7 linked regions of the Homo sapiens genome follow. The protein of the gene in region 2 interacts with the protein of the main gene of each other region in a pairwise test. Each region holds a gene or a part of one and is shown on either strand. Other genes may lie near its edges.

Region 1 (4,567 bases), on a different chromosome or scaffold from region 2:
GGGTTAAGGGCAGGGAAGGTGGGGAAGCCCAGCACTGTCCTACCCGAGTTAACACTCCAGACAGAATTAGTAAAAAGACAAAGACAGACACGCAGACGGCTTTTGCTGAGACCTGGGGCGGGCCTGTTCCCTCTGGGAGGGCTGTAGAGTGCTGAATGAGACCCTGAGTCCCTACAGACTGGAGAGAAATGCGGGAGCAGGGCCCTGGGGCCACCTACCCTGAGGAGAGAAGCCGAGAAGCGCCTGGGGCCAAAACCCTGGCACCCTCGCTGACCTCATTGCTCCAGCTGGGAAGCAGAGACTGCCCGGCTGGACAGCTCTTCCCCCGGGAAAAGCCCGGGCTGCAGGCCACTGGGGCCCAGATCAGAGAGGGAGGGAGACGAAGGCGGCTGGGCGGGCCAGAAACCTGCTCACAGACCTTTCCCACTGAGGACCACAGGAAGGTGAGCTGCCCGTGTCCATGAGTGAGCTCCCTCGTGAGGGTCCTGCCAGGGTCATCGGCTCTCAGCCCCTCCCTGCTGCGCCCCAGCTTGCGGGAGGGCGGTGGTCGCTGGGGCCTCTCTGGAGGATGCAGCGTGGGGGCGTTTGCGTGACCAGAGCTTCCTCAGGCCTAGGAGGGCCACGGCGGGAGAGGAGTGCTGGCTGTCCTCTGGCTGAGGAGGCCAGGTGGGGTGGGGGAGGGGCTCTGGCGGGTACCTACCTGGTTCTTAGCCTGCCTGCACAGTGTATGTTTTAAAGCCTCAGAATCTAAGGTGGAATTAAGCACATCTTTAACTTCAAATGCTTCCTCAGCTGCTCTGCGGAGGTCCAGCCCCTTCCCAAAAGTCGGCATCGGCTCCAAAGCTAACAGACCGCCTTCGTGGTCCTCAGCACACCTGCACCAATGACCGGGGAGAGGGAAGGCCTGCTGTCAGCAGCCTGGCCTTGGCCGCCTCTCTGATGCTGCAAGCCCAGCTCCGGGCCTGCATGCACGCCGCTGCATCTCTGCCAGCCACATGCACAGGGAGACAGACACACGGACACACAGACGCCTGGACGGGAAGGCACACGGATGCAGGAGAGTGACGGACAGAGGTCAGGGAGGGGGTGAGTGCGTGCACACGCATCAGGCAGCAGGCAGGGGGCTCAGGTCTTGCCAGTGGAGGGTGGAGAAGAAGGCTTCAATTCTCTAAGACCCCAGGCAGCTCAGAGAGGCCCGGGGCTCCCTCTCCCAGGACTCAGGGGCAGCATCCAGGCTGGAGAGGAAGTGCCACCTCCGAAGGGCCTCCCCAAGGGCATCTGGGAATGCTGGCAGTGTCGCCCAGGCCCGATATTGGTGGCGAACACTGAGGACATGGGGAAGTGGCCCTGGCCGGCACAGAATGGTGGGTGCTTGGCCCCCGTGTGCCCACGGCCCTCTAGTGGCTGCACGCGCTGTCCCAGGCTGACAGGCAGCTCTGCTGCAGGGCCGGGGGCCTCCATGTCTGCTCAGTGCAGGGAAATGCCTTCCCCTCCACACTCTGCTTCCAGCCTCCAGGGCCCCTGGGGGTGGGTGGGGGGGTTAAGGGCCCCTGACCCCGTTGCCCCTGGCCCAGCCTTGCCCTGGCCTGTGTGTGGAGGCCCTGAGGTGGCTGTGCTGGAGTAGGGGCTGAGCCAGGGATGGGCTCACGAGTGGCTGAAGAGGGAGGTCCCCCTCGTGATGGACGCCCACGTTCCCTCCCTGCCCCATCCTGGAGCACACGGCTGCCCCCACCTTCGGGTGTGGTCAAAGCCCACGGCCAGGGAGGCGGCTGGCTCCTCATCCTCCTCATCCTCGTAGGCGGCCTGGGGCTCGGGTGCGGGGGACACGGTGTCATCCTGCGACTTCCCGGCCAGGCTGTCCTCATCGTCCTCCTCCAGGTCATCGTCGTCCTCCTCCTCCACGTCCTCCTGCTTCTCACTGGCTAGGCCTGGACACTGGGCACTGCCGTCCACGATCTGCATGTCCGCCCTGAAATGATGCAGGAGGAGATTGACTGAGTTTGGGTGTCTCTGTCCTTCCCATGGACCCCCAAAGGCTGGTGACTCCGCTCTGCCCCCACTGCCTCCCCCGACAACACTCAGCCCCCTTCCTGAGGGAGCTCCCGCGGGTCCCTGGGCCCAGCCACTGACTCTGCAGAGTGAGAGGCACGGAGGCCTGGGGGCGATCCCGGGAGAGGAGGGCAAGCGCTCGGGGCGGTGGGGGCAGGGCAAGGCCCAGCAGCAAGCTGCTATGGCCGGGAGGACACCAGGGCCGGGGCGGTGTTGGGGTGGAAGCAGTGGGCAGTCCTGTGGGGAAGCTGGACCTGCACTGGCACGGGGGTTGGGCAGTGCACGAGGGGCACCCTCAGGGCAGACTTCAGGGGGAAGGAATTCAGGCTGACAACTCGAGGACGTGGGCACTGGCCCGAGAGCCGGGAGCCCTGGAGGGCTCTCTGGGATCTGGAGAGTGAGGGCCCAAAGCCTGCTGTGAGCAGTCTGAATGCACCAGGACAAGCTTGCTTCGGAGCCTGTGGGGGGACTCTTCTGCAGCCCAGGGCTCTCCTGACTTCCCTCAGGGTCACTGCAGCCCGGCAGGACCCCTCCACTCCGGTTCCTCAGTATTAAATAAAAAAGAACAAAGCGTGCATGGGTGTGGCTGGGCATTCTCATTTCTTTCAGGAAGAGCCACTAGAGTTTGGCTCATCTTCATGTTCACGACCAAGAGCTGTGTCTTGGGTGGGCTGGGCCCCAGGGGAGCTGAGGGCCCCCGGGCACATGCTGGACATACTGGTAGAGGGGCCCAAGCAAAGGGCAGGGCACGCAGTTTCTGGACTGCCCATGCCCAGAGCCCCAGGGCCACTCTTCCTTGTCCTCACTCCGCCCGGGGGCACTGCCTCCCGCTGCCCTGGGAGGTATCCACGGTGTGGGTGAGATGCAGGGGTCCTGCTCTTGGCATCCAAGCAAGAAAGTGACAGCGTCTCACGGCGACCGACCTCCGTGTCTCGGACTCGCCTGTGTGCACGGGAACTGGGCTTGGGGAGGCCACAATTTCCTGGCTCTCCACAGATGGGCCACGTGTCTATCTCTTGTCTTTCTGCCTTCCAGGACGGACAGAACCTCACCAGGTTTCAGGGCTTGAGGAGAGTTCCTCGGTCCTGGTCGCCTGTGTTGGGGGCCAAGAGCGTCCTGTACACACACCCATCTCCTCAGCCACGGAGCTGCTGGGATCCGGGTCCTGGTTCTCACCCTGGTTGTTGGTGAGGTGCCCTCGGGTGGGGTTCTGTCTTTGGGGCCTGTGCCCTCTCGATGACACGAGGACATACCCCTCCCTGTCCACTCTGAGGACGGGATGAGATGGCGCAGGGTGAGAGCCCAGGCTCATCACATGGGCATGTGCTGTGAGATCTCATCTGGTGGCCCCACGTGGGTTTGCATGGGCTTCCCACCAGCTGGGGGCAGGGACTTTGCCCTCTTTATGTCTGCTGCACACCCCCCATGCACAGAGTATTTGCTTTTTAGTGTTGGGGAGCGGAGCATCCGGCACGGACACAGAATAGGGCCCAGTGGCTGGTTTGGCTCCAACAGGGAGGACAGTCAGTTTCCCAGAGCTGCCCAAACCAAGCCCCACAGAATGGGGGCCTGAAGCAACAGCCGTGGACGCTTTCACAGCTCTGAGGCCAGAAGTCCAAGATCCAGGCGAGGGCAGGCCGGGTTCCTTCCAAGACTCTGGGGGAGAATCTGTCCCTGGTCTCTCTCCAGCTCCCGCTGCTGCCGGCCCTCTTTGGCCATCCTTGGCAAACCTTGGCACTCTTCGGCCCTCCTATGTGACCCTTGGCCCTCCTTGGCCATCCTTGGTGACCTTTGTCCCTCTTAGGTGACCCTTGGCTGGGAGGCGCATCACCCTGACCTCTGTCTCCATTTTCCCTTGGCCTTCTCCCCTGCGTGATTTTCTCCAAGTGCCCCCTTTTTAAGAGGCCGTCAGTGCCGCTGGATTGGGGCCCACTCTACCCAGTGTGGCCTCTGCTTAATCCCTCCTTAAAGACCTTATCTCCTAAGAGAGTCCCATTCTGAGGTACCGGGGGCTGGGACTTCCACCTGGGAATGCTGAGGGACATGATTCAACTCAGGGGTTCACGGGGCTGCAGGACCAGGACTCCTGACAGAACTGGATCCTTCCTGATGGCGGAGGGCAGGAGCTGGTTCTGCAGGAGGCCCAGGGAACGTTCCCGCCACCCCAGGGACTGGCTGCCTATGTCCACCTTGCCCTGTTCTCATTTTCGTCAGTGACGCAGGGGCTCTCAGGACCAGGCCAGCTGGACCCGGGGACCTTGCCTCAGCAGGACGGGTCTTCCGAGGGCCTGAGTCTGAGTCCGTCTGAGGCCGGCTGTGCCCGTATGTTCTGAGGTGTGGAGAGCCTCCCTCGTCCCCACCCCTAGGGCTGTGAGAAGCAGGGCACTGTGGGCCTTGCCATAGGCGAGGGGGAGGCCCGGCCACATCTCTTTCTCTTAGAGACAGCCTTCTGTCCTGGTGGGTCTCCTGCAGTGCGGCCGGGCTGCACCCTAGCTCGGGGTCCTGGTGGGTCTCCTGC
Region 2 (4,567 bases):
GGCACACACCTGTAATCCTAGCTACTCGGGAGGCTGCAGCAGGAGAATTGCTTGAAGCTGGGAGGTGGAGGCTATGGCAGGAGAACTGCTTGAACCTGGGAGGTGGAGGCTGCAGTGAGCCGAAATTGCACCACTGCACTCCAGCCTGGGGAACAAGAGTGAAACTCTGTCTCAAAAAAGAGTGGGACATCCTATGTGATTGGTTAGGAGTACATATTTGGCTTTCTCCGGTTGGTCCTAAGTTGGAAGCAGGGGCAAAAATTAGGGCAGCTATCAGTTATTAATCAAGTCCTGGCTTTGGAGGCCAATTGTTACAGTGGTCATTATTTGGCTTGCTGGACTGGTTGGTAAAGATAGTGGTCTGACTTCCTACAAGTCTGACTTGTGGATAGTAGGCTGGCTTCCTGTGCTGGTTGCTGCTATTGTGCGTCAGAGTTCTGTTTTTCTACATGGTCTAGCCATTGTCTGTTTGTATATTCAGCCTCTCCCAGGCAAGGGCCACTGTCAGTCACTTCACCCCTGATGTATATGGAAGCCATTTGGTCCTTCACTGTCAGGTGTCTCTGCTCCAAAGCAGAGTGGAAGAGCCTAGGCAACACAGGGAGACCCTGTTTCTACAAAAAATAAAAAATAAAAATTAGCTGGACATGGTGGCATGTGCCTATAGTCCCAGCTAATCAAGAGGCTGAGGCGGAAGGATCACTTGAGGCCAGGAGATCAAGGCTGCAGTGAGCCATGACTGCGTCACTGTGCTCCAGCCTAGGTGACAGAGCAAGACCTTGTCTCAAAAACAACAAGACCACCACCACCAGAGTAGAAGGCACTGGCCAGGGATAAGGCAGCCAACAACAAGCAGGTGAGGGAAGATTTGGAGAGGAAGAGAACTTCCCTGGTTTCCCTGAAGTTCTCACTTTGTCTGAGTCAGGCTGACCTTGAGGAACCCTGACATCTGGGCCATGAGACATCTTGGGGATGACTTTCAACCTTCAGATGAAAGAAGCAGGTCTAGAGAAGTGTTGCTTCCTTCACTCTGATCCAAATGGGGAGTCAACCAGGCACCAGGGCTCAATCAACAGCAATAAACATCACTGTCTGAGGTCAACTGGCTTGCTCAGCTCTCTGTTATCAGGCACTGCCACCAGCAGCACTTCTATCAGAGTGCGAGCTCCTCAAGGTTAAAGGCATTTGAGAAGGGCTTACCAAGAGTCCAGACACTAGACAAAGTTACTTGTGCAGTCTGCTTTCAGACACTGGGAATGAAGTCTTCCTCCCTACCACCAAACTTGGGGGGAAAAAACAAAAAAAAACCTCTAATCCAATCCTTGGTCTGCAGGTAAGCTAAAGTGCAGATTCCTGAGGAGGATCACAGAAACTTCAGTACTCTGGTCTACCTTTCAGTGTGAATGAGTTCCAGCCCTATTCTTGAAAATTGTTATTGGAACAGAGCAGGTAGGCCCTGAGGCATATTGAAGGGAGTTAATGATTATGGAGTGATGCAGGGTGCCTGACAGCATTGGACAGGAGGGTATGTTTTCTCATGTTGGTCTCACAATAACTATGTAGAGCCACTCTTACCCCCATTGTACAGATGAGGAAACTGTTGCCTTAAAATACAATTTTTTTGTAATAAAGTCATGCTAATTTGTTTACATATTGTCTATAGTTGCTTTCACTGGCAAAACCTAAAATGTTTACTATCTGGCCCTTTCTAGAATGTTTGCTGACCTTGTTCTGAATTCTTCAAGCTCTAAATTTACCTCTGTAGAGAAAAACTAAAAACAAAACAAAAACCCAACTAATTCACATTCTTTCCTGGGCTTTTAGAAAAAGAACTGATTTGATAAATGGCCAAGGACCAACCCTCCCCCTCCCCCATAACATCTTTTATTTTTAAAATGTAATTGAAACATCTCTTTTTTGTTTTGTTTTTTTGAGATGGAGTCTCGATCTGTCGCCCAGGTGGGAGTGCAGTGGCGCAGTTTTAGCTCACTGCGACCTCCAGCCGCCGGGTTCAAGCAATTCTCCTTGCCTCAGCCTCAGCCTCAGCCTCCCGAGTAGCTGGGATCACGGGCTAAGGTCACCACGCCCAGCTAATTTTCCTTTTTTTTTTTAGATGGAGTCTTGCTCTGTCACCCAGGCTGGAGTACAGTAGCACGATCTCAGCTCACTGCAACCTCCACCTCCAGGGTTCAAGCGATTCTCCTGACTCAGCCTCCTGAGTAGCTAGGACTACAGGTGTGCACCACCACACCTGGCTAATTTTTGTGTGTGTTTTTTTTTTTTAGTAGAGATGGAGTTTCGCCACATTGTCCAGGCTGGTCTCGAACTCTTGACCTCAGCCGATCTGCCCGCCTCGGCCTCCCAAAGTCCTGGGATTACAGGCATAAGCCACATGCCCAGCCAAAAAACAGCATTGGTTTTAATATCTGATATAGCTGGCAGAGTCACACCACAAACAGATAAGAGCTCTCCCCTTTTTGCCTTGCAGCCAGGAAGCTCAGAACTAAACCTTGTATGAAACTGCAACAATATGGCTTAGCCAAATTTTTTGACATGATCGCTTCTCCCAAATCCCATTACTACTGGCCTAATGTCCTTTGACTTTTAATATTCCCATAATAACTACCAATTATTTTAGCTATCTTGCAGCCTTTCAAGACACAAGCAAGGGCACAAATAATTATTTTTATTTATTTATTTATTTTTGATGGAGACAAGAGTCTCGCTCTGTCGCCCAGGCTGGAGTACAGTAGCATGATCTCAGCTCACTGCAACCTCCGCCTCCTGAGTTCAAGCAATTCTCCTACCTCAGCCTCCTGAGTAGCTGGGACTACAGGCACATGCCGCCATGCCTGGCTAATTTTTAGTATTTTAGTAGAGACTGGGTTTCACCATGTTGCCCAGGCTGGTCTCGAACTCCTGAGCTCAGGTGATCCGCCCGCCTCGGCTTCCCAAAGTGCTAGGATTACAGGCATGAGCCACCACGCCCGGCCAAATAATTATTTATTTTGAAATGGTGGCTTGGACACAGCTCATTTCACGCTGCTCCTGGATGAAGACTTTCCAAGAAAGAGGATCTTTTCCCCAGAACCTGGGATGGGTACCCTGGCAGCTCTCTCATTGTTTAGAATTATTGCCCAAGAGCGAAGCAAAGAAGCAGGAAAGAGTTTGGCACTCAAAGACACATAAACCAGGTTCAAATCCTGGCTCTGCCTCCTTGGGCACTGTGGGAGCTGGTTCCAAACCTCTTCAGGTCCCAGTTTCCTTAGGTAAGAATGATGGCAGGAATGCCTGCCACCCATGTTTACTTATGAAGACTAAACAAGATAATGCACACAACTATGCTCTGTATCATGCAAATTTTAATTATTCCCATAAGTTAATCATCAAAAACTAATAATATTTATGGAAAACTAGATTATGCCAAGCCCTGCACTAGATACTTTACTGGCAAAGACTCATTGAATTCTTCCATCACAGGATGAAGAGATTCAGAGTTCAAGTAATGCCCCCACCCACACAAAAGAAAACAGCCAGGTATTTCACTAGGCTGGAAGGATTACAATATCAAAAGGCTGGTACTTACAAACAAATTAAAGAAACAAAGCACATATTTACTCCCAACTAGCATAAAGATAAGAACCTGGCTGAGCCCAAGGTAAGTATTCAAATACTTTATAGCAGTGACTGGGGGCCGAGAAGAGGGGGGCCAATCAATACTCCTCAGGGATGAGGAGTAAGAGACACGGGACAGTATGAAAAAGTGTATTTACCATTACAGGGATAACTTTCATATTTACAAAATGAAGGGGGAAACCCCATGGTTTTCTTAATACAAATCACATACTGTAAAGGTCCACAAACTCTTCTCAGCTGGGGATCTACGCAGAACACATGAGGGCATCTGCTCTGGGGGTAACAGGGAAGGAAAGAAAACAGTGAGGGTTTTTTTTGTTTGTTTTTTAGCATAGGTTTTGCTTTTATTTTCCTTTTATTTATTTTTTTGTAGAGACAAGGTCTCGATTTATTGCCCTGGCTGGTCTTGAATTCCTGGGTTCCAACAATTCTCCGCATTGGCCTCCCAATGTGCGGGGATTATAGGCATGAGCCACCACACATAGGTTTTTTGTTTTTGAGACAGAGTCTCGCTCTGTTGCCCAGGCTGGAGTGCTCGCCCAGGCTGGAGTGCAGTGGCACGATCTTGGCTCACTGCAAGCTCCGCCTTCCGGGTTCACACCATTCTCCTGCCTCAGCCTCCCGAGTAGCTGGGACTACAGGCACCCACCACCACACCTGGCTAATTTTTTTATATTTTTAGTAGAGACGGGGTTTCACCGTGTTAGCTAGGATGGTCCCGATCTCCTGACCTCGTGATCCGCCCGCCTTGGCCTCCAAAGTGCTGGGATTACAGGCGTGAGCCACCGCGCCCGGCCTCACACATAGGTTTTAAGTTACATTATCTGACCCCAGAGCTGTAAGAAGCTGTAGAGATCATCCCACTAAAATACCCTTGGTCCCACCCTTCTCCATTTTACAGCTGAAGTAAACCAAACTGTAGGGCGGGGAG
Region 3 (4,567 bases), on a different chromosome or scaffold from region 2:
CAGCCATTATGTTTGGATTTGTCATACTGTGATAGTTTAAAAAATATACAAATTAAAAGAAAAGTTATAGACACATATTTTCTTATGCTTTGCAGATATTGTGTTTTTTTTTTTTTTTTTTTTTTTTTTTTTTTTTTACAAATTGCAGTTTCGTGGCAACCCTGCATTAATTCGAGCCATTTTTCCAATTGCATGTGCTCACTTTGTCTCTGGGTCACATTTTGGTAATTCTTGGAATATTTCAGACCTTTCCATTATTATTGTATCTGTTACGGTGATCTGTGATGAGTGATCTTTCATGGTTTTATTATAATTGTTTTGGGGTACCACAAACCACACCCAGAAAAGAAGGTCAACTTAATCGAAAAATGTTGTGTGTTCTGACTGCTCTGCCCTTCTCTCATCTCTCTCCCTCTCTGTGGGCCTCCATATTCCCTGAGACACATTTACATTGAAATTAGGCCAACTATTAACCCTACAATGGCTTGTAAGTGTTTAAGCAAAAGGAAGAGTCACACATCTTTCACTTTAAATCAAAAGCTAGAAACAATTAAGCTTAGTGAGGAAGGCATGTTGAAAGCTGAGGCAGGCTGAAAGTTAGACCATGTGCACCAGTTAGCCAAATTGTGAATGCAAAGGAAAAATTCTTGAAGGAAATTAAAAGTGCTACTTCTCTGAACATATAAATGATAAGAAAGCAAAAGAGGTTTATTGTTAATATGGAGAGAAAGTTCTTATGTTCTGGACAGAAGATCAAACTAGCCACAACATTCCCTTAAGCCAAAGCCTAATCAGTAAAAGGCCCTAATTTTTAATTCTTTGAAGGCTGAGAGAGGTGAAGAAGCTCCGGAAAAGTTGGAAGCTAGCAGTGGTTGGTTCATGAGGTTTAAGAAGCCACCTCTGTAACATAAAAGTGCAAGATGAAGCAGCGAGTGCTGATGTAGAAGCTGCAGCCAGTTATCCAGAAGATCTAGCTAAGATCATTGATGAAGGTGGCTACAGCAAACAACAGATTTTCAATGTAGATGAAACAACCTTCTAGTGGAAGAAGATGCCATGTAGGGCTTTAATAGCTAGAGAGGAGAAGTCAATGCCTGGCTTCAAAACTTCAAAGGACAGGCTTATTCTCTTGTTAGGGGCTAATGCAGCCAGTGACTTTAAGTTGAAGCCAATGCTCATTTACCATTCTGAAAATTCTAGGGCCCTCAGATTTACGCTAAATCTACTCTGCCTGTGCTCTGCAAATGGAACAACAAAGCCTGAATAACAGCACATCTGTTTATAGCATGGTTTACTGAATATTTTAAGCTCACCGTTGATAGCTACTGCTCAGAAAAAGATTCCTTTCAAACTGTTACTGCTCATTGACAATGCACCTGGTCACTCAAAAGCTCTGATGGAGATGTACAAGGAGATTAATGTTGTTTTCATGCCTGCTAACACAACATCCATTCTGCAGCCCATGGATCGGGGGTAATTCTGACTTCCAAGACTTATTATTTAAGAAATACATTTTGTAAGGCTATAGCTGCCATGGATAGTGATTCCTCTGATGGATCTCGGCAAAGTTAACTGAAAACCTTCTGTAAAGGATGCACCATTTTAGATGCCATTAAGAATATTTGTGATTCATGGGAGGAGGTCAAAATATCTACATTAACAGGAGTCTGGAAGAAGTTGATTCCAACCCTCATGGATGACGTGGAAGGGTTCAAGACTGCATCAGAGGAAGGAACTGCAGATGTGGTGGAAATAGCAAGAGAACTAGAAGCGGAGCTGGAAGATGGGACTGAATTGCTACAATCTCACGATAAAATGTAGATGGCTGAGGAGCTGGTTCTTACGGATAAGCAAAGAAAGTGGTTTCTTGGGATGGAATCTATTTCTGGTGAAGATGCCATGAATATTGTTGAAATCACAACACGGGATTCAGAATATTATAGGTACTTAGTAGAGTAAGCAGTGGTAGAGTTTGATAGGATTGACTCCAATTTTGAAAGAAGTTCTACTGTGGGTAAATGCTATCAAACAGGATTGCATGCTACAGAGAAATCTCTTGTGAAAGGAAGAGTCAACTGATGTGGCAAACTTCACTGCTGTCTTATTTGAAAAAACTGCCACAGCCACCCCAGCCTTCAGCAACACCACCCTAAGTCAGCCACCATCAATGTTGAGGCAAGATCCTCCACCAGCAAAAAGATTACAAGTTGTAAAGGCTCAGATGATTGTCAGCATTTTTTTAGCAATAAAGTATTTTAAAATTAAGATACGTATATATATTTTAAAACATAATGCTATTGCTCAGTTAATAGACTTCCATTAGATGATCATTATAATGTAAACCTAACTTTTATATGCACTGGGAAACCAAAAAATTCATGTGACTCACTTTATTATAATATTCACTTTATTGTGTGGTGGCCTGGAACCAGACCCACAATATCTCTGAGGCGTGCCTGTACTTAGTTTAAAACTGACTTTCATATGGTCTCTATTCAGACTGTTCATGAATGATGCTCCTCTATTTTAAAGACTATCAGAATCTGGCTGTGTGTGGTGGCTCATGCCTGCAATCCCAATATTTTGGGGGGCTGAGGTGTGGGGATCAGTTGAGGCCAGGAATTTGAGACCAGCCTGAGCAACACAGTGAAACCGCATCTCAATACAAAAAATTAGCCAGGCATGATGGCACATGCCTGTAGTCCCAGGTACTTGGGAGGCTGAGGCACAAGAATCGCTTGAACCTGGGAGGCTGAGGTTGCAGTGAGCTGAGATCACACCACAGCCCTCTAGCCTCAATGACACAGCGAGGGAAAAAAAAAAAAAAAGGAAAAAAGACAGAGCAAGAGTCTGTCTAAAAAAAGAAAGAAAGAAGCCAAACTTAAATGGTTAGCAGCAAATCTCTGGGTAGTTTTGAAGAAAAGACGGTTTAAGAAAGAGAAGTTATTTTGATGATAGTTCCTAAGAAGGAAGGTTTTGTTGTCATTGTTGTTGTTGTTGTTTTTAATATAGAGAAAAGGTCTCGCTGTGTTGCCCAGCCTTCTCTCAAACTAGCTCAAACTAGAATCAAAAACTAGCTCACTGAAGAACATTTTGGCAGTTTGGTCTTTATGTGTATGAAACACTGGTAAATAAATCATAGTATTTTGGCAACCTGATACTTTAGTGTTGAGAAATTTTGATGACATCTGATATAGTTGGTAAGTTTGTCCCCTCTAAGTCCCATGTTGAAATGTGATCACCAGTGTTCCAGGTGGGGCCTGGTGTGAGGTGTTTGGGTCATGAGGGTGGATCCCTTATGAATGGCTTGGTGCCCTCCCTGTGGCAGTGAGTGAGTTCTCACTCTATTACTTCATGCCAGAACTAGTTGTTTAAAAGAGACTGGTATCTCTCTCTTGCTTCCTGTCTTGCCATGTGACACACTTGCTCCCTTTTTCCTTCTGCCATGATTGTAAGCTTCCTGAGGCCTCATCAGAAGCAGATACTGGCACCATGCTTCTTGTACAGTCTGCAGTATCGTAAGCCAAAACAAACTTCTTTTCTTTATAAATTGCCCAGCTCAGATATTCCTTTATAGCAATGCAAAACAGACTAATACAACATCAGTGTAAAACGCAGAACCATGGGAGATCATAAAAATTAGCATTTCCCAATCATGTGGGAATATTAACCTTAATAAACAAAGACAAATATTTTAATTAAAGCTTTGTAATTAAAGAGTGTGTGTGAAATATATTACGAATATAATGTAATTATACACTTTCACATAAAACCCAATATTCTACCACTTGAATTTAGACATCTGGATCTCAGATTTTCTTGACATTGCAGTTAAGAAGAAAATAATATAGGTTTTTATTTTATTTTTTTAAAGGATGTATGTTATAAAGTGGCAACTGGTCATTTCACCAGAATTAGTATTTTAAATAAGGAGCAGCATTTAATATTTCCCAACTCGTAAAAAATAATTACTTTTTGTCAGCTGAAAAGGGGACAGGTGGGTGTGTAAATTAAGTGTTGTAGTTGTTGGCATATTAGCTGCCTACGTCTCTGTTGGAAATCAACAAGGCAGAAGAGCATGCCAGGGAAAAAGCCTGGGGAGAGGAGCAGACTGTGGCTAGTGAAGAGCAGATAGAAGCAGAGAGAACTAGGAGTAGCAGAAACGAATGAGAAGGGCAGGGATAGAGCCACCCCCACCCGCCCTTTGCAAGGTGTGCTCCAGGTGTGTGGCACGTGGCAAAGAGTCCTCACATTTACACTGCCCTTGAGAAATGCATTCTAAAAGCAGATGGAGTTTGTGCTGAATGTGTTCCAAGGCGCCCCCCCCGGCCCCCCTGCTTTAATCCCCTCTCACCTTGTCCCACACCTCCTCAGTGACATCCATTATGCTTCCAAAGAAAGGGTTGACAGCAGCATTGGAGACTAGGATATCGATACCTCCATGAAGCTTCACAGCCTAGAGAGAGGGGTAAGTTCTGGACCAGGGCTGCAGTAAGTAAGGGAGGTGCATTTACCCATGTTGATAAAAACTTCCTTCTGGGCAAGGAGCTGTGGCTCATGCCTGTAA
Region 4 (4,567 bases), about 38 Mb from region 2:
GTTTGAGAGGACTGACTCCAATGTTGAAAAAGTTGTACTGTGGGTAAAATGCTATCAAATAGCTTCTCATGGTACAGAGAAATCTTTCCTGAAAGGAAAAGTTAATCGATGCATCAAACTTCATTGTCTTATTTTAAGAAGTTACCACAGCCACCTTAAACCTTCAGCAACCACTACCCTGATCAGTCAGCAACCATCAACACCTAGGAAAGACCCTCCACCAGCAAAAAGACTACAACTCGCTGAAGACTCAGGTGATCATTAGCATTTTTTAGGAGTAACGTATTTTTTAATTAAGGTATATACATTGTTTTTTAGGCATAATGCTGTTGCACAAAATAGACTACAGTATAGCAAAAACATAACTTTCATATGCACTGGGAAGACAAAAAAATTATGTGACTTGCTTTATTGTGGTGGTCCAGAACTGAATCCACAATGTCTCTTAGGTATGCCTGTATATGAAGAGCTGACTAGAGAAAAGTTTCTCAGAAACACAAAGCCACAGTAGAAGTGAGACAGCCTAATTTAAATAAATTAAAAGAAAAAGAAAAGAACTCTAAAAGGCACCATGCCTTTGCTGAAAAAAGCCATTTGTTTGCTAGTGTGAGTTCTGACAAAGACCAAATTCTGTCTTAAGTACATGTTAGGAGCTTGCGTTGAAGTTCTCTAAGGGCAGTTTAACCACACACAGTAAGAGATTACATCTTCCATTCTAATTTGCATTCATTAAAATACAATTATTAAAATGGTGAGACAGTCAGATGTTTGGTCTAGATCTTCACAGTTGCTCATGATTTCATGTTCCTGAAAATATAATCTGCACTTTTCTGAAAAAGGAAAATGAAAGAGGATGGGTGACTCTCAGTCAATCCATGTGATTTCTGCATGAGGACCTGTGAAATGGAGAAAATTGGATTTCCCAGAACTGGCCCTGCCACTGCTCCCTTCCGATCCAGATTGAGCATATGTGTTACTTGGTGCAATTGTTGTCATAGAGATGATTCTTGTTTGTTAAATAAAAGAACCAAATAGTTACAGAAAAGTAGACGATGTAAACTGTACATGTATAAATAAGTTATTTCCCTTTAAATGTCAAATGTCCCATCTCTCCTTATCTTTTTTTTTTTTTTTGAGCTTTCTCTAATTAGATAGACTTATAGTTTTCATCAAGAAGTTCAGTAAATAAATATTTGGGCTATCTACTATGTGTAAAATGTCACAAAAATATTTAGAAACAAACCAGAAATCCATATGGATGAGAAGAAAAGAGAGGTGGTGATGATGGTGGTAGTGGTGGTCATGGTGGTCATGGTGGTGATAGGAGTGGTGGAGGTGGTAGTGGTGATACTGGTGGTGGTGGTGGAGGTGGTGGTGGTTGTCTTGGTAATGGTGGTGTTGATGGTGGTTGTGGTTATGGCGCTGGTGGTGGTGGTGGTCATAGTGGTGATGGGAGTGGTGATGGTGGTGGTGATGATAGCAGTGGTGGTGGTGGCAGTGGTGGTGGTTGTTCCTGGTAATGGTGGTGTTGATGGAGGTTGTGGCTATGGTGGTAGTTGTGGTGGTGGTGGTGGTCATGGTGGTAATGGGAGTGGTGATAATGGTGATGGGAGTGGTGATGGTGATAGCAGTGGTGGTGGGTGGCAGCAGTGCTGGTGGTTGTCCTGGTAATGGAGATTGTGGTAGCGGTGGTGGTGGTGGTGGTGGTGGTGGTGGTGGTGGTGGTGGTGGCAGTGGTCCTAGCTAAAGTGATAACAGAATGAAGATCTAGAAACCAAAATATTTTTCAACATAACATGTGATAGTAAATCTAATTCAATTGATTTGCACATATCTTAAGGAATAAAGTTGTAGAAAATGATATACACTGGAAATCCTAGATTGAAAAGGTGGTTAAAAAATAAAATGACCTCCTTCTTTGTTCCTTATTTGAAACAATTATGGAACAAGACTAAAATTCTATTCTTCCTTAGTGTTTTAAAGCCAGATCCCCTGGGCCGTCTCTGTGATTAACTGTCTTAATTTTCTAATTTAATTATACCTTCTCAGTCCCCTCCCTGCCATTACTCTAGGTCATCTCTACAATTATCTCTTTTCTGGGCAACAACATTTCCTAAATGTCTTCCCTGACCACAATTTTGCCACCTCCATCCATTAGGTCCGTTGTGCAAAGCATGATTTCTGTAAAATGCTTATATGATGAGGTTGCTTCTCTGATCAAGACACTTCAGTGGTTCTCAGCCACTTTAAAGTCTAAATTCTCTAAATGGCTTATGTGTTTTATAAATTGTTATGCATAATTGCTTTATTCTGCCAGTACTTCAGTCTGAAGTAGAGTCTATTGGCTTGATATCATGGCAAAACTCAAGCATCATCTTTCATTCTGAAAAGTGTTTTCTAACCCACTCTTACATTATTGCCCATATTCTTTTTTAAGCCATGCCCATAGATTTCTATGCAACATTTTATTGCACCCAAAATGCTTGTTTATATAACTGTCTCCTACAAGAATAGACTGTCATTTTATCCAAGGATCTAAAATTATTTTATTTCATAAAAATATTTTAGCACACAGTAGTTATGATATTTATGGAATGAATGAGTGAGTGAATAAGAGAATGGATGAATGAATAAATAAATGAATGGCACAGAACCTTCAGGTTAATATTATTTAGTCCCCACAGTTGAATGCAGCCACAGTAAGTAGCACTAGTAATCATGGATAACAACATGGATGCAAGTAAAGGAAGTGAAACCATTATTTAAAGGTGTCTGTAAACCAAACCAATACATATTCATTGAAGTATAATCCACAAAAATTTTGAACTAGGACAATGATTAGTAGGAAACAGTGAACAATTTTTGTAGAAGTACAGAATAATGTTTGAGATGACGGATATGCTAATTACCCTCATATGATTACTACACATTGTAGGTATTGAAACATCACTATATGCTCTATGCATATGTACAACTATTATATATCGATTTAAAAAACTAATTTAATTTGTTTAAGCACAGAATAAGAACATCTGGATTTAAACATATCTCCACTACTTAAATGCTGCACTGGGCTTAATTTCTTTTACTTTTATAAGCTCATTTCTTCACACATAAAATTAAATAGTCAAAGTAGGTAGACCTTTATAAATAGGGACCACATGACTCAGACATGTTCAAGTAAAATCTATGAAAAAGTTTTGATTCAAAGTCATTTAATAGACATACATTAATGGACAGACTCTCATCTTAAAGTCACTTACTCAAACATTTCAGTTAAAAAAAAGTTTTTGGCAGTTATCTATATAACCAAAGGTTATATACCACAAAGGTTTTCTTGCCTTTGTGGGTAAACACATTTACACTCCAAAATTATTATAGTCATTGGTATCTCCCTGTGGGATCTGAATACATGGGGATGCTGGAGGAAATAGTTAAGTTTCTTATTACCCATGGCTTGATAATTGAGCATTTGACCATACTAGTCAGCCATTCTCTTCAGAGAGGTGATGTGGGTTTGACCACACTCAAAAACTAGTCCTAGCCATTTGTACTGGAGGGAGCACAAGAAAAAGAGTAAAAGCTCTTAAAACAAGTCTGTCTGTCATAATATCTCCTTGGGGCTTCTCTTTGGTCTGAGAGCAACTGTTGCAGCTTTCAGGTAAAGCAATGAACTCATGACGTTCTACCAAGATCTTGCCAGGCTTCATGATTCAGTAACAGCTCTGAAATAAGGCAATAGCATCCCAATTCTTTGAAAAAGCTCACTTTGTGCTTCATGAGAGTTTAGCTCTGCTTCAGAATATTACCTAAGAATGAAGAAATATTTACTCACTAACATGAAAACAGAGAATTGAGAGTTGGAATGTCTCTCTCAATTTCCATGTTAATTTTTCCTTGTTATTTTCCTTTAAGAATATTATGAACGTATCCACAAAGGATCACAAAGTCAGTATGAATTCAAGTAGAGAAATAAACGAACCTCTCAAAATGCCCTTTGCAACAATTGGCAATGATGTCAGTCTTCTCAGCCATTTGATATCTTCCCAGCTGATAGATGGGTCTATTGCTTTAGCCACATATGCAGCAAGTCCACTGTCGTCTCCAAAATTTTCCTCAGGAGAAAATGATAAAGTACTGGTTTCAAAATTTTTCATCCTAAAATAAGAAATGCATAAAATGAGAAATTTGCCAAATTAGAAATACGTTTCCAATGATTCATTCAATGAAAAATGTTACCCTTTTCAAATCAATTGGCTGTTCACTGCTCATTTATCTATAAGTCAATTGCACACATATTTTCCATATTTTGATGTAGGACTCTAGACTAAATGTGATACTCTAGTGGTCTTAATCAGTGACCTAAATTTTATTTTACATCTTAGGCTGTGTTTACACAAACAAATCTGTTTCAAGAAAAAAAAATGTGTTCATATTCAAACATCTCATTTTTAAGCCAGTTTATGGATATAGACAATAGAGTTGACACGATTTTCAGCCAGCAATGCAAATTAATCACAATTTAAAAAGCATTTTTATGGTGCATTATAATTTACAAAGGGTTTTG
Region 5 (4,567 bases), on a different chromosome or scaffold from region 2:
TACGATACTATCTGCAAAGCTTTGTCAACTGGCATTTTACACTAGGCAGAGAAGAAATGAGGTAAAGGGGAAGTCACTAGTAAGCTGCAAAATCTGGGACATGCAAATAAAAAGTCCGTTTTTGGAGAGTAGTTACCATCATAAAATAATACACCAGAACGAAAACAAGATGCAAAACAACAGGTGGAGGTCTTTCTAAATGCAGTTAAGAATAAATTCAGATAAAACTGTACAAAATAAAGACATGAGGCCCTTTTTCATTATTATTGTGAAAATGATAAAGAATCAAAAACACTTAAATCTTACCAGCAAAATTCTAAGTCATGATCAGATGCAAATTATTTGTCACAAATGAAAATTAAATAATTACAATGGGGGGTTTAAGAAGAAAGACATATTATAGTAGATTTGAGATAAATGTATAGAAAGTATATTTATATTGAAAACAAGTGTGTTTTTGGACATCTCTGCATAATATAAAAACTAAGAAGGCAGAAAATGACGCTAGTCCAGTGATCAGCAAACTTTTTCTGCGAAGGGCCAGATAATAAATATTTCAGGCTTCGTGGATCTGCTGCAACTACTCACCTCTACTGTTGTAGTGCGAAAGCAGCCAGACATAAGTAAACAAATGAGCACGGCTGTCTTCCAATAACATTTTATTTATGGACACTAAAATTTGAATTTTATATAATTTTCACTTGTCACAAAGTATTACTCTTTTGATTTTCTCCAACCATTTAAAAATGTTAAAACCATCCTCAGCTAGTGGATCACTAAAAACATAAAGATTTATCCCACAAGCCAGTGTGCTGGCCCTTGCCCTAGACTATTACAGTTCAATAAAATAAATCCTTCTGCATTCAACCTCAACTATTGTTCATCATTAATACGTGTTTTAAGCCACTCTACAGAAAACAGAGATTACTGTCATCTATAATGCAGTTTCCTAATAAAAGTAATTCCTGCCTCTCAGAGCCATTGAGAACATCAAATGGGAATCTTCACCAACGCCTTACCAAAAAGCTTAAGATACTATCTGTAAATAGCTATTATCCTCACTGCTCTAGATACTTCCTTAAGATATGATGGCCTGTATATGACAGCCAGAAGTGATGCGAATGCTCTTCAGGTGTCTTCATTAGATAATACAACAACTCAATGCCACCATCTTGCAACCACAGGATTCTCTAAGTTTCCTCTCATCCATATTATCTACCCTCCTTGAAGTCTCATCAATTGCTGATCAAAGAGGAATTTTCCAAAATTAGAATATTTGCATAGATGATGGAAAAAGAGTACTCTGGGGGATCCCTCAACAACCCACAGAACACAGGATAAGCTTGGCTTCACTGTTACATCCTGAAAAGCCAAACCCAAGTCATTAATTTTATCTGATACACGGTCTGGTCTGCTCCAAAATCTCATAGGATCAAACTGCAGAAATGATCACTACAAAGAGTTTGTCCCATCACATACTTCTCTTTTATCATAATAGTATATTAATATCTGCCTGAGCTGCAATGTAAATTGTCTCTGAAAATATAAGGGCTATCAATAAACAAACAGTGCATTCAAAGAGATCCATGAATTTATGTAACAATCAAGAGTCAAGTCCTTTGTTTTTAAAAAGTTCTATTGACATGGAATTCAATATTAGCTTAAAGCCAGATACTGTCTAATTGCTTACTACATCACTTTTTGAGGAACATTAATGCAAGTATTTCTAGTCCTAATTTTGCAATATCCCAAAGTATCAATGATATCAAGTAGGGCTCAAGAATCTACAAACATACTTTTAAAGTTTTTAATTAAAAAATGTATTCTGGATATGACACCAAAAGCTCATATCCCAAAAATCATTGCAAAGACTAATGTCAAGAAACTTTCTCCCTATGTTTTCTTCTAGGCATTTTACGGTTTTGGGTACTGCATTTGGGTCTTTAAGCCATTTTGGATTAAGTTTTGTACATAGTGTGAGGTAACGGTTCAGTTTCACTCTTTTGCACATGGATATGCAGTTTCTCCAATACCATTTATCGAAAAGACTATCCTTTCCACATTTCTATTCTTGGAACCTGATCAAATGTGATTTTTTTTCTAAAAAAAAATTTGCTTTCTAATTTGTCACATTGTTCTATGTGTCTGAAAAAAAAAAATGTATTCTGGCCAGCATGTCATAAATACGAGAGTAATAAATGATAAAAGAAAATGCTGCTCATACAAAACTAGTATTATGTCTATATGTATGAAAAGCATGGACATTTTTACATAAATGTACAACTTTCCATTTATAAGTTGATGGGGCCTATGTGACTTATCAAATTGTTAATACAAAATAATAACAAAAGTGTTATCTATATTTCCTTCAGTTCTTCCTTATCAAAATTATATACAATGAACTCATAGTCTAGTGAAATACATGGCAAGGTCCCAGCTGTCTTTTCCCTTATATCACACAGGATAGTTAGAAAAATCCAGATCAGACTGGAATAATAAGCAAAATCATATTTTTCCTAATACTGTTCTTCACTGGCTCTCAAACTCTAGCCTTTTTCTGAACTGCATCTTCCCATCTTTGCATAGCTCCCTTATTACATCAAGATCCATCTCCAGCACCCTGGTTTGCATCTCAGGCCCTGGTTCCAGCCCCACAATACTTTCCCAACCAGATCTGAACTGAGAAAAAGACATCACTACTCACATCCCCAGTTCCTGTTTTGCCTTTTTTCAAAACCAAGTGATTCTTTCCCCTCTTCATGTTTCAACTCAGGAGCTCAGTTATTAAACACATCCCCAAATATCCTACAACCCACAGGTAGATTTGTTTTTCAGTAAGACCCCAGAAGTAACATATGCTTCTAAGTCAACAGCACATGCTATAGGCAAAATGCAATCATCTTTCATACTACTAAGAAATTTCCCTAATATTTAAGTTATCTAATATAAATTCTTTGAAAACCCTAAATTAGGGCAAGTGGCTACTACCTATAAAAGATAAGAACTTAAAATGAATATGTGAGTTTAAAAAGTAAACAGATATTAAGATGTGGAGGCAAAGGGATAGTCTGTCCACTAACACTCCCCACCAAAGGAGTCAGCAGTCTTCTCAAAAAGCTCCCAATCTGACCTCCAAGCAGAGCTACTTCCTCTGTGCTTTTAATGCAGCAAGCATGTGCAAACCTCCTTCACAGGTGTTATGTACTGGACTGTCGTTATTGACAAAGATAGTCTCATTAACATCTATATCCCAAGAATAAAGTTTATACTCAATCACTGAAGAGGAAGGGCAAGGGAATTATTCAGACTTCTTTTCGTGGAAAGGGACTCAAGAAAATACTTAAAAGCACCCTTCAAATTCAGGATTAAAGGAAAGACGTTAAAAAGAAGGAAGTTCTGGAACCTGAAAAACTAAGAGTTTTTACCTCACCTTATCATAGGTAGCTGACGTAAGGTCATCATAGTCAGAAAGCCAGGGGTGGGCCTCAGCATCCCGTTTTGCCATCTCCTCCAACTCTGCCTGCAACTTGTCCCAGAAATCGACATCAGACTGTAAGGAAGGGAAAGCAGATAGAAAAAGGAGATCCATCATGACCACCCCACCCCACACTCAGCTCTGCTGGGATTCTCTAAGGCAGCAGTTCTTGAATTTCAATATGTTTAAGAATCATCTGAATAAGTTTTTTAAAATGCAAATGGCCAGATGCTATCCCCAGATACTGATTTAGTAGTCTGGGGTGATGGCCAGAAATGTAATGTAGTGCAGTGCAGTGCAGTGCAGTGCAGTGCAGTGCAGTGCATAGTTTAGTTTAGTTTTTTGTTTGAGACAGAGTTTCACTCTCGTTGCCCAGGCTAGAGTGCAATGGCGTGATCTCATCTCGTTGCAACCTCCACCTCCCAGTTTCAAACATTTCTCCTGCCTCAGCCTCCCAAGTAGCTGGGATTACAGGCATGCGCCAACACACCACGCTAATTTTGTATTTTTAGTAGAGACATGGGGTTTCTCCATGTTGTTCAGACTGGTCTCGAACTCCTAACCTCAGGTGATCCACCCACCTCGGGCTCCCAAAGTGCTGAGATTACAGGCATGAGCCACCATGCCTGGCCCAGAAATCTGCATTTTTCAACAGCACCCACCCCATCCCCAAGCAACTCTGACACAGATGATCCAGGTCCACTATGAAATACAATTTGCATCATCTTTGATGTTCATACACCCACTCACTCCAAGGAGTGTTTTCTTTTGGGGTGTCTGCTCCTGCACTATCTGCTCTCACCTCTATAGCTGACTTGGCTCGTTCAAACTCCATATCAAGGGCAGATGTGTTTACTGGTCTTGTGAACTGGTCAACCCAGGCATCTGATGTACCCTGCGACAAAAAAGGATGGTCAGTACCACTACCACCAACTTTCTATCCATCAGACGCACACTAAATACCCACTAACCACCACCAACCTGGGTACTTCTGAGAAAATCATTCTCAGAATCTCTTTCCCACCCACTTGGGACCTGGATGCTATCAAGACAAGCTGGTCTTATCCTTCCCCATCTGGGACCACTGACCAC
Region 6 (4,567 bases), on a different chromosome or scaffold from region 2:
GAAGAATTATGATTGAGTTCTCAAATCCATGTTTAATCTACAGAATAATATCACTCACCTCTGCAGAGAATGGGTTTTCCTTATTATCTCTGTGTTCCATGAAAAAGAACATGATCCAAAAGTTGCCAGTGTACTCTCAACATTGAGTCGCTCTACTTAGGTTAATACACAAGCACCATAGAACTATCTGCAGTGGGGAAGACTCCATTTTATATTTAAGAAATGTCCTTAGACATCTATCTAATAGATGTCTTTTTGACAGATCCGTTTAAAAAAAAAAAGGAAAAAAGAAAAAGATAAACCTGTGGAGATGACTGTGAAGAAACTGGCCCTTTAAAATAATTGCTATAGCTAGTATATGAAGCAACTAATAGTGAGATAGACACAGAAGAAGGGTCTATTACCTGGATAGAAGGGTATGTTCGGTTGTTGTCTGTGCTGTGCTCCCCTGGAATGCTGCCTGCTGATCGCCCTTCACATTTGTATCTAAAACGCATTCCCCTCTGCCTGGGTTGTTCAATTATCTCTATATACGGGTTATACGCACCTGAAAAGTTTTTAAAAAGGAGGAGGTCAGTGAGATTAATATAGCAATTAATAATGGATTTTAACATTCTGTTTTTTTTATAACAGCAGACTAAAACAAAGATTTTTTTCCTCCTAACATTAAATAACAAGACCGAAATGTTATCTTGGAGATTGGCTGGGAGAGGCACCTTTTTTTCCCATTCAAATTGAGTCCCTATGTAGTGTCAAAACAAGTCATTCAAACCATATTGACTGGTTAGCACTTTATAGCTTAATATCTATAGCTAACGTCAATATGAAGTTCTGAGATAACCACTTCAGAGATATCTGCCTCCCACGTGAGACCTAGCAGAAGGGTTTCCCCCAAGATTCCCCAAGAAGGGTAAAGAAGGCAGTATTCAGAAGTAAAATATCACACTCCTAAAGTGAGTTAAATATATTTAACTGCTTGATTTTACATCATATTCATAATACTGAATGAAAAGACCATTCACTGAAAATGAAAATGCATTTAAATCCTTGCAGAAGCATATGTAAGTTTTTTATATCTCCATTCAAATATTAAAGGACTTACACACAGTATATCAAAACAAGCCCCAGGAGGGACTTTAGGCTCAAAGAATGTGCAATCAGTCCCATGCAAACCTTTTCTAAAGACATAATAGAGAAAAAAAAGTATTCACTTTCTATAATAACTAAAATTCAAAATATGCATCTGCAGAATGAACTGCTGCTACATATAATAACATGGACGACTCTCAAAATGATTATGCTGAGTGAAAGAAGTTAGACCAGAAGAGCACATACTGTATGATTCCATTTATATGAAACCCTAGGATATGTAAAGTAATATACAATGAACGATAGCAGATCACTGGTTGCCTAAGAACAGGGATATATGGTGGATAGGAAAGGCAGGGGGGACATTATCTTGTGATGATGATTCCAGGGTTGTATACATATGTCAAAACTTGTCAAATTGCATACTTTAAAAGTACAGTTTGTTGTACATAAATTATATGTCAATAAAGCTATTTAAAATGTATGCAACTTTACTTTTATTATCCAAATTGTGGGGGAAAAGGTAAATAGACACTCAACTGTACTTGCAAGTAGGGGAGTTAATAGGGGTGTGAAGATGTTTTCCATTAAAAAATAATAATAATGTGTCCCTTAATCACTTTAGTGCTGACTAAGGCTTATCCTGTTAGAACGCAAGCAATCCTGAGAAATGGTAACACAGTGGGCCTTATCAGAACAGTATGGAGAAGAGGCCTTTAGAATCCTACCCCAGCTACTTCTTAACAGTAAGACCAAGGAAATGTGATTAAAATTAAAAATCTCTTAGTTTCCTCCTCTGTAAAATAGGAATAATCATAATAGCACCTACCTCATTGGGTTGTTGTGAAGATGACAGATTATATGTGCTAAATTCTTACGAAGTGTCATATATACATACACATTCAATAAATGTTGTCTACGTGAAAAAATGCTCATCATCACTGGCCATCAGAGAAATGCAAATCAAAACCACAATGAGATACCATCTTACACCAGTTAGAATGGCGATCATTAAAAAGTCAGGAAACAACAGGTGCTGGAGAGGATGTGAAGAAATAGGAACACTTTTACACAGTTGGTGGGACTGTAAGCTAGTTCAACCATTGTGGAAGTCAGTGTGGCGATTCCTCAGGGATCTAGAACTAGAAATACCATTTTACCCAGCCATCCCATTACTGGGTATATACCCAAAAGATTATAAATCATGCTGCTATAAAGACACATGCACAAGTATGTTTATTGCGGCACTCTTCACAATAGCAAAGACTTGGAACCAACCCAAATGTCCAACAATGATAGACTGGATTAAGAAAATGTGGCACATATACACCATGGAATACTATGCAGCCATAAAAAAGGATAAGCTCATGTCCTTTGTAGGGACATAGATGAAGCTGGAAACTATCGTGAGGACAAAAAAACCAAACACCGCATGTTCTCACTCATGGGTGGGAATTGATCAATGAGAACACATGGACACAGGAAGGGGAACATCACACACCAGGGCCTGTTGTGGGGTGGGGGAAGGGGGGAGGGAAAGCATTAGGAGATATACCTAATGTTAAATGACAAGTTAATGGGTGCAGCACACCAACATGGCACATGTATACATATGTAACAAAGCCGCACGATGTGTACATGTACCCTAAAACTTAAAGTGTAAAAAAATAAAAAATAAAAAAAAATGGTGTCTATTATTTCAGATGCTTTCTTGAAAACAATGATTTAGTGATACTATGGTGGTATCCCAACTGTCACTCTAAAGGACCTTATAGAAGAGCAAGGCAAACAACATATATTATTAGACTACAGAAGGAAGGAAAGCACTAACAAAATTCTGCGGAAATAAGAGCGAAAGAGTCAGGAATGCCCAACTGTGTCAGTGGAAAAAGAGCGGTTAATGAAGCAAAAGAGCGGAGGAAATGAAGAGGAAAAAGGTAGGTATTCTAGGGAAAAGGGAACAGTGTGTCCACAGAGGAGGGTTTATTTAAGAATCACCAATGTAAATGGAACACACTTTCTCTCTTAAAAAGAGAACTAAAAGTCAGAGCACACTTGGCAATGTGGATTTCATTTTATGTGTGATGAAATCAATGAATATTTTGATGCAGGCAAATCACATGATCAGATTTGCATTTTAGAGTAAAAGTTTTAGTCACAGTGAACAGATAGAAAAAAGAAAGCAATGTCATCAGTTTAGAGACCACTATAATAATGTGGGCAATGATGAGGGTATCTCTGATATATGGCAGTGATAAGATGAATGAAGGATTATTTAAAAGATAAAATTGACAGCACCTGGTGCCTGAACAGTAGGGTTAAGAGAAATTAAAGAATCACTGATAGCTCAGAAATTAAAGAATCATTGATGATTCCATGGCTTCTACTTTGGGTTACTGAATAAAGTATTACTGTAACTTTCAATTTTATTCTGTATGGTGTAAACTCCCTGTGTTTGAATCTACTACCTATTTGTTTATTCAGAAGATGAAGAGCCAGAGAAAACTGACTTTAACCTAAACAAGTTCATAATCCTTATTTCAGTTTTACTCAAAAACATAAGATATGCAGATGAGTATTTCACGATTTTATCCTTGCATATTTTAAAGATTTCAAATTCACATTGCAATTTCAAATATTTCATACCCTTATATATCCTTGTAGGAGTATTTAAGAAAGTATATTTTCCTCTTAAAAACTGTTAAAATCAACATTACTTTTTAAGTCACATTTTAAATAATTTATGTGGCTGAAGTAAAGGCCAAATAAATCCCTGCCCACTACTTATTTAAAGGTGTCTTGGTGGGAAACTGATATAAAATGACATCGTTAATGATAAGTGTTTAACTTTGGGAAGAGAGAGTGTGAATAAAACTGCTAGGTTCATAGTGAGCATTCAAATATTTCACTGAGGCTGGGCATGGTGGCTCATACCTGTAATCCCAGCACTTTGGGAGGCCAAAGTGGGTGGATCACTTGAGGTCAGGAGTTCCAGACCAGCCTGGAAAACATGGTGAAACCCCATCTCTACTAAAAATACAAAAAATTAGCGGGATGTGGTGGCAGGCACCTGTAATCCCAGCTACTTGGGAGACTGAGGCAAGAGAATTGCTTGAACCCAGGAGGTGGAGGCTGCAGTGAGCCAAGATTGTACCACTGCACTCTAGCCTGGGTGACAGAGTGAGACTCCGTCTCAAAAAAAAAAACAAACAAAACACAAAAACAACAACAAAAAAACCCAAAACTTCATTGGTTACATGACACTTCTTTAGATTGTTTACAAAAAGAACAGAAAAGTAGTTGTTGAAAAGATTAAATATTTTTAAATAGTAAAAATTACATAAATATCAGTTATCATATAATATTGAGTATTTAAAGTCCTTGGAATTTATTTTTCCTACTGCAGAAGCTCTTAATTGGTAAAAATTAACAAGCTGGGGGAATGTAGAGTATTACAACCAAGTAACACAGTATACTG
Region 7 (4,567 bases), on a different chromosome or scaffold from region 2:
TCAACAGTGATTCTAATTGTTTAATTTCAATCCAAATAAAAGCCTTCTACTTTGAGCTTTCGAATCTCTTAACCTTTATTATTAAAAATCTATTAAAAACTCTTCTTATATTTGTATTTAAATATATTTTATATGTAATATGAAATAATAAAATATCAGTAGTGGTTCTACTTGTTGATTTTTCAGAAGCTAAGAACTATATGAATCTATACCATTATATACTGTAAAATCACAAATATATGTAATATATACATATATACATATAGTGATATATGTGTGTATATATGCATACTTATACATGTATACATGTGTATATATACATATTTATGTGTGTGCATATATATGTATACATCCCCAAACTATCTTAATTTAACTTTAAATCCAGTAATACTTTACAATAGAACATTCTTACCTCTGCCAGAAAAATTACTAAGCACCAAATTAGCACAAAAATTAAGCTCTTGTGGACAGTAATATATCGAAGGTATGTGTTCCATGTAGTCACTGCTGGTATGCTCTCCATATCATCAAAAAAGCACTCCTGAATAAAAGAATTATGGCTATTACAATAAGACAGTACAGTTTCATGCCACCATTGTGGTTTTATTTTTAATATATGAAAATAAAAGAATAGTATTACTTGAATCTAAGTGTATTTTAACAAATATAAATCATTATAAATGCCATGTATGATGTCATTCTATAGCCAGAATAATGTCTACTGGAGCAACACAGCTTTATTAAAAATGAGAAACATCGTAATTTTTCAAAATTCTAAAAATGTATCACTGATTATATAACTGTATTATTATTGGACAATTTTACCATTAAAGGCTTAACAGTGGCATACCTTTTATCAAATGAATGATACCATCTAAATGAAGTTTCCCAGAACTCTCTTTGATTTAACCTGTTTCTTCAGGGGTCCATGGACAAGTACAGTTCAGTATACTTCTAGCTATAAAGGTCTTCCAATAGACTGAAAGCTCATTTGTGTTTGAACATTTCTTAGTAACTTAGGACTTTCTCTCTTTCCAGCTGTGATTTAAATTACATAATTCTCATCCTAGGCATATTCCTCTAGAAATCTTTGTCTTTTGGCATAGAAATACATTTCAAAAATTTGAAAAAGAGAGATTCCAGACAGTCCAAAGGAAAAAGAGTTTTGTTTCTCACAAAATCAACAAAACTCATGGGAAAGTGCTATGAATCACAAAGAAGGGCTCCTATGGAATTGGGATATAGTGCACTGGTTAGGAGTATGCATTTTTTGAGTCAGACAGATCTGGATTTGAACCCAACCTCCACCATTAACATCCTAGGAGCTGCTTGAATTCAAGCATGTTGCCGAACTCTGAACTTTAGTTTCCTTATCTGCAAATGTGAAAAATTTTAAATACCTTCCAGGGTAGTTGTGGGGACTAAATATATGCCACCTAGCACTAGATGCAATCCATTAATAGAAACTATTATTAGTCAAGGATATCATTCTTTACAACTAAATTTTTAGGCTCAGGACTGAGAAATTCATTTAGATTGATATTAAACTATATAGATGGGCTGGGCGCAGTGGCTCAGGCTGGACGTGGTGGCACACGCCTGTAATACCAGCACTTTGGGAGGCTGAGGTGGGTGGATCACAAGGTCAGGAGTTCAAGACCAGCCTGGTCAACATGATGAAACCCCTTCTCTACTAAAAATACAAAAATTAGCTCGGCATGGTGGTGCATGCCTGTAATCTCAGCTACTCAGGAGGCTGAGGCAGGAGATTAGCTTGAACCCAGGAGGCAGAGGTTGCAGTGAGCCGAGGTTGCACCATTGCACTCCAGCCTAGGTGACAGAGCGAGACTCCATCTCAAACAAACAAACAAACAAACACACAAAAAAACACTATATAGATGAATTATCATTTAGGAAACCTTCATAAAGTTTAGAAATACTAAAATTACACACTTTAGGGATCTATTTTATTCCCTCATTTTACAAAGAAGGAAACTTCTGCCTACAGATGTTAATGGCTTGTGTCTTGTCAAAGGTCATATTATTCACAAATGATCTATACTATTAAACATATCAATTCATTACAACCCTGCCCATGGCTCATTTCATCCAAGGCATTAAGTTTTCTACTAAAACAACAAAAACTCTCCTTTTTATATTATTTCCTGTTTTAAAAATAAAATGCTTTTATTCTTAAAACCTAATAGAACAAAATTTCTGTCTGAAGATTGGCACTAGTACATGTTAAGCTTATATACATTCTCTAAAAGAAATCTTTTCAGAAACCCAATGTATAAAGCAAACTCACAAGATAAAAAAAAGCCCACACTAGCTAAATTCAGGCAAGACTGATATACAAACCAGAATGTGAGTTAGTCCTATCAAGAGGCTAAATGTTTATATACCTTATATATGCTACTTCCATACAGATTATTTTGCGAGCTATAAATAATGAAAGCTACTATTTATTTATACAGTTATTTATACTGCACCTCTTCCCACAGAGGGTTCAAGATGGTAATAAAGCAAATGCTTTCTAACTTATAGTCACAGTTATCACTGGCTTAGTAGAGGACCAAAAACTAAATCCTTTCCCATTTTATGGGAAGAGATATGTCCATTGCAAAAAGAAATCATTTGTTATTTTACATTTTAACGTTGCTTGTATAATTAATGAACTTCATACTTTCTGAGTTTTAAGATACACCTTATCCTAATCCTATGATTTTAGTAAATTTTGTTACATGCTACATATTGCATTCTACTCAATTGCATTCTGTGGGGTGAAATACCCCCAAGCGATGTATACCTACCTTTAAGTCTTCTTCGTTAATTTCTTCACTTATTTCCAAGCCAGTTTCTTGAGATAACCTTCTTGAATATATATCCAGTTCAGTCAAGTTTGCCTGAGGGGCCAGTGACACTTTTCGTGTGGATGCTGTTGTCTTTCGGTGAATGTTCTGACCTTGGTTAACTGAGTGTGTCATCAGGTTCAGGACAGACTGCCTCCTTCGTGCCTGAAGCGTGGGGCCAGTGCTGATCACGCTGATGCGAGGCAGTATCGCCTCTCCCTGCTCAGAATCTGGTACTAAGGACAGCCTTCTCTCTAAAGGCTCATCAGAATCCTCTTCGATGCCATTCATTTGTAAGGGAGTCTTTTGCACAATGGAAAATTTTCGTATAGAGTTGATTGGATTGAGAATAGAATTCTTCCTTTTTTCCCCAAACTCTCCAGTCTGTTTAAAAGATTGTTTTTTTGTTTCTGTCCAGGAGACAGGAGCATCTCCTTCTAATGAGAAACGGTGTAAGGTCTCAGTTAGGATTGAATTTCTTCTTTCTGCACTAAATTGGTCGAAAGAATCACATCCCATGAGTTTTGAGCTAAAGTCTGGCTGTAGATTTTGGAGTTCTGAAAATGTCCCATAAAAATAGCTGCTACCTTCATGCAAAATTAATATTTTGTCAGCTTTCTTTAAATGTTCCATTTTAGAAGTGACCAAAATCCTAGTTTTGTTAGCCATCAGTTTACAGACACAGCTTTAAGATATAAAAACATATAAATATCAATTTTATAAATACTTTATTGCAATATGTCTCGTATTTTAGCATTTTGTTAATGTTTTATTGCATATAATCTCTATCATACAATTTTATTATATTTTAAATGATTCTATAAGTACTCTGTAGTAATTAAATTGGTACCTTGTGAATTCTGATAGCATGAAATAACATGCTATATTGAAAAGTTGCATGTTAACAGACTGAGAATGAAATTAAATTTCCTATATTAAGTAGATATTTGACTTTGAGCAAATCATTTATCCTCGGGGTCTCTCAGTTTATTTATCTAGAAAATGAGGAAATTATTAGATGATCTTTAAGGTCCCTAGAGATTTGTACTTCATTTCTTTTAAATGTCAGAGCTTTGTTGCTCTTTAAATTTTCTATTAATTTCTTTTTTACATTTTAGGTTGACCATCAATTTATTTCTCAAGTGTTTACATTAAGACTAATCTGTTTCACTAAAAATAAAACAGCAATAATAACAACTGAGAATTCGATAATTAATTTGACTCTCCTCAAATAGAATTTTAATCTATTCTAGAAGTAAATCCTGACTAGAATCATCTAAGACATATCAGTTTTTTTAGGCATTAAAATGTCATATATCATATAGAAAGACACATTGTTCTAGATTATACTGTAACACACTAACACAATACAAATGTAGTAAAGTTTATATTGATAGAAGTTACTTTTCACAATCTCAGGGTTGAAAAGATAGTATCTTGGATATTAAATTTAACTAAATTCTAAGAAAGGTACTTCTAGGAATAACCCAGCCATTTTATATACATATACATCTTTATTGCTTAAAGTCTTTATTTTTAGAAGAGTATAATAACTGTTCTCCTAATAAACTACTTGATAGTCCATTAAATCATTTTGAAACTTTGAAATCAAGCCATATAACTGACTGTCTGTCTGTCTAGGGAATTTCATGTACATTGGACCCTAACAGGAGTTCCAAGGAAATATAAGTCCTGAGCTCTGTGTGACTGAGGAG

Evidence for each region.
Region 1: the proteins of ACOT8 (region 2) and PRDM16 interact in a two-hybrid assay, tested with the Homo sapiens proteins (one large-scale study listed by BioGRID).
Region 3: the proteins of ACOT8 (region 2) and DHRS4 come close enough for resonance energy transfer, tested with the Homo sapiens proteins (one large-scale study listed by BioGRID).
Region 4: the proteins of ACOT8 (region 2) and HAO1 come close enough for resonance energy transfer, tested with the Homo sapiens proteins (one large-scale study listed by BioGRID).
Region 5: the proteins of ACOT8 (region 2) and PEX5 interact in binary tests that used the Homo sapiens proteins (3 or more experiments, as listed by UniProt).
Region 6: the proteins of ACOT8 (region 2) and REL interact in binary tests that used the Homo sapiens proteins (3 or more experiments, as listed by UniProt).
Region 7: the proteins of ACOT8 (region 2) and CFTR interact in binary tests that used the Homo sapiens proteins (3 or more experiments, as listed by UniProt).

The regions. Positions count from the first base shown.
Region 1 is NC_000001.11:3,428,274-3,432,840, reverse strand, and holds part of PRDM16 (histone-lysine N-methyltransferase PRDM16), read right to left. Parts: intron 1,970-4,567; coding exon 1,733-1,969; intron 876-1,732; coding exon 701-875; intron 1-700. UniProt on the Homo sapiens protein: Binds DNA and functions as a transcriptional regulator. Displays histone methyltransferase activity and monomethylates 'Lys-9' of histone H3 (H3K9me1) in vitro.
Region 2 is NC_000020.11:45,850,076-45,854,642, forward strand, and holds part of ACOT8 (acyl-coenzyme A thioesterase 8), read right to left. Parts: intron 3,879-4,567; exon of another isoform or gene 3,848-3,878; intron 1-3,847. UniProt on the Homo sapiens protein: Catalyzes the hydrolysis of acyl-CoAs into free fatty acids and coenzyme A (CoASH), regulating their respective intracellular levels. Displays no strong substrate specificity with respect to the carboxylic acid moiety of Acyl-CoAs.
Region 3 is NC_000014.9:23,959,791-23,964,357, reverse strand, and holds part of DHRS4 (dehydrogenase/reductase SDR family member 4), read right to left. Parts: intron 4,457-4,567; coding exon 4,355-4,456; intron 1-4,354. UniProt on the Homo sapiens protein: NADPH-dependent oxidoreductase which catalyzes the reduction of a variety of compounds bearing carbonyl groups including ketosteroids, alpha-dicarbonyl compounds, aldehydes, aromatic ketones and quinones.
Region 4 is NC_000020.11:7,902,172-7,906,738, forward strand, and holds part of HAO1 (2-Hydroxyacid oxidase 1), read right to left. Parts: intron 4,159-4,567; coding exon 3,983-4,158; intron 1-3,982. UniProt on the Homo sapiens protein: Broad substrate specificity (S)-2-hydroxy-acid oxidase that preferentially oxidizes glycolate.
Region 5 is NC_000012.12:7,202,415-7,206,981, reverse strand, and holds part of PEX5 (peroxisomal biogenesis factor 5), read right to left. Parts: intron 4,371-4,567; coding exon 4,278-4,370; intron 3,551-4,277; coding exon 3,431-3,550; intron 1-3,430.
Region 6 is NC_000002.12:60,887,663-60,892,229, reverse strand, and holds part of REL (proto-oncogene c-Rel), read right to left. Parts: intron 548-4,567; coding exon 405-547; intron 1-404. UniProt on the Homo sapiens protein: Proto-oncogene that may play a role in differentiation and lymphopoiesis.
Region 7 is NC_000007.14:117,590,904-117,595,470, reverse strand, and holds part of CFTR (cystic fibrosis transmembrane conductance regulator), read right to left. Parts: intron 3,538-4,567; coding exon 2,814-3,537; intron 542-2,813; coding exon 413-541; intron 1-412. UniProt on the Homo sapiens protein: Epithelial ion channel that plays an important role in the regulation of epithelial ion and water transport and fluid homeostasis. Mediates the transport of chloride ions across the cell membrane.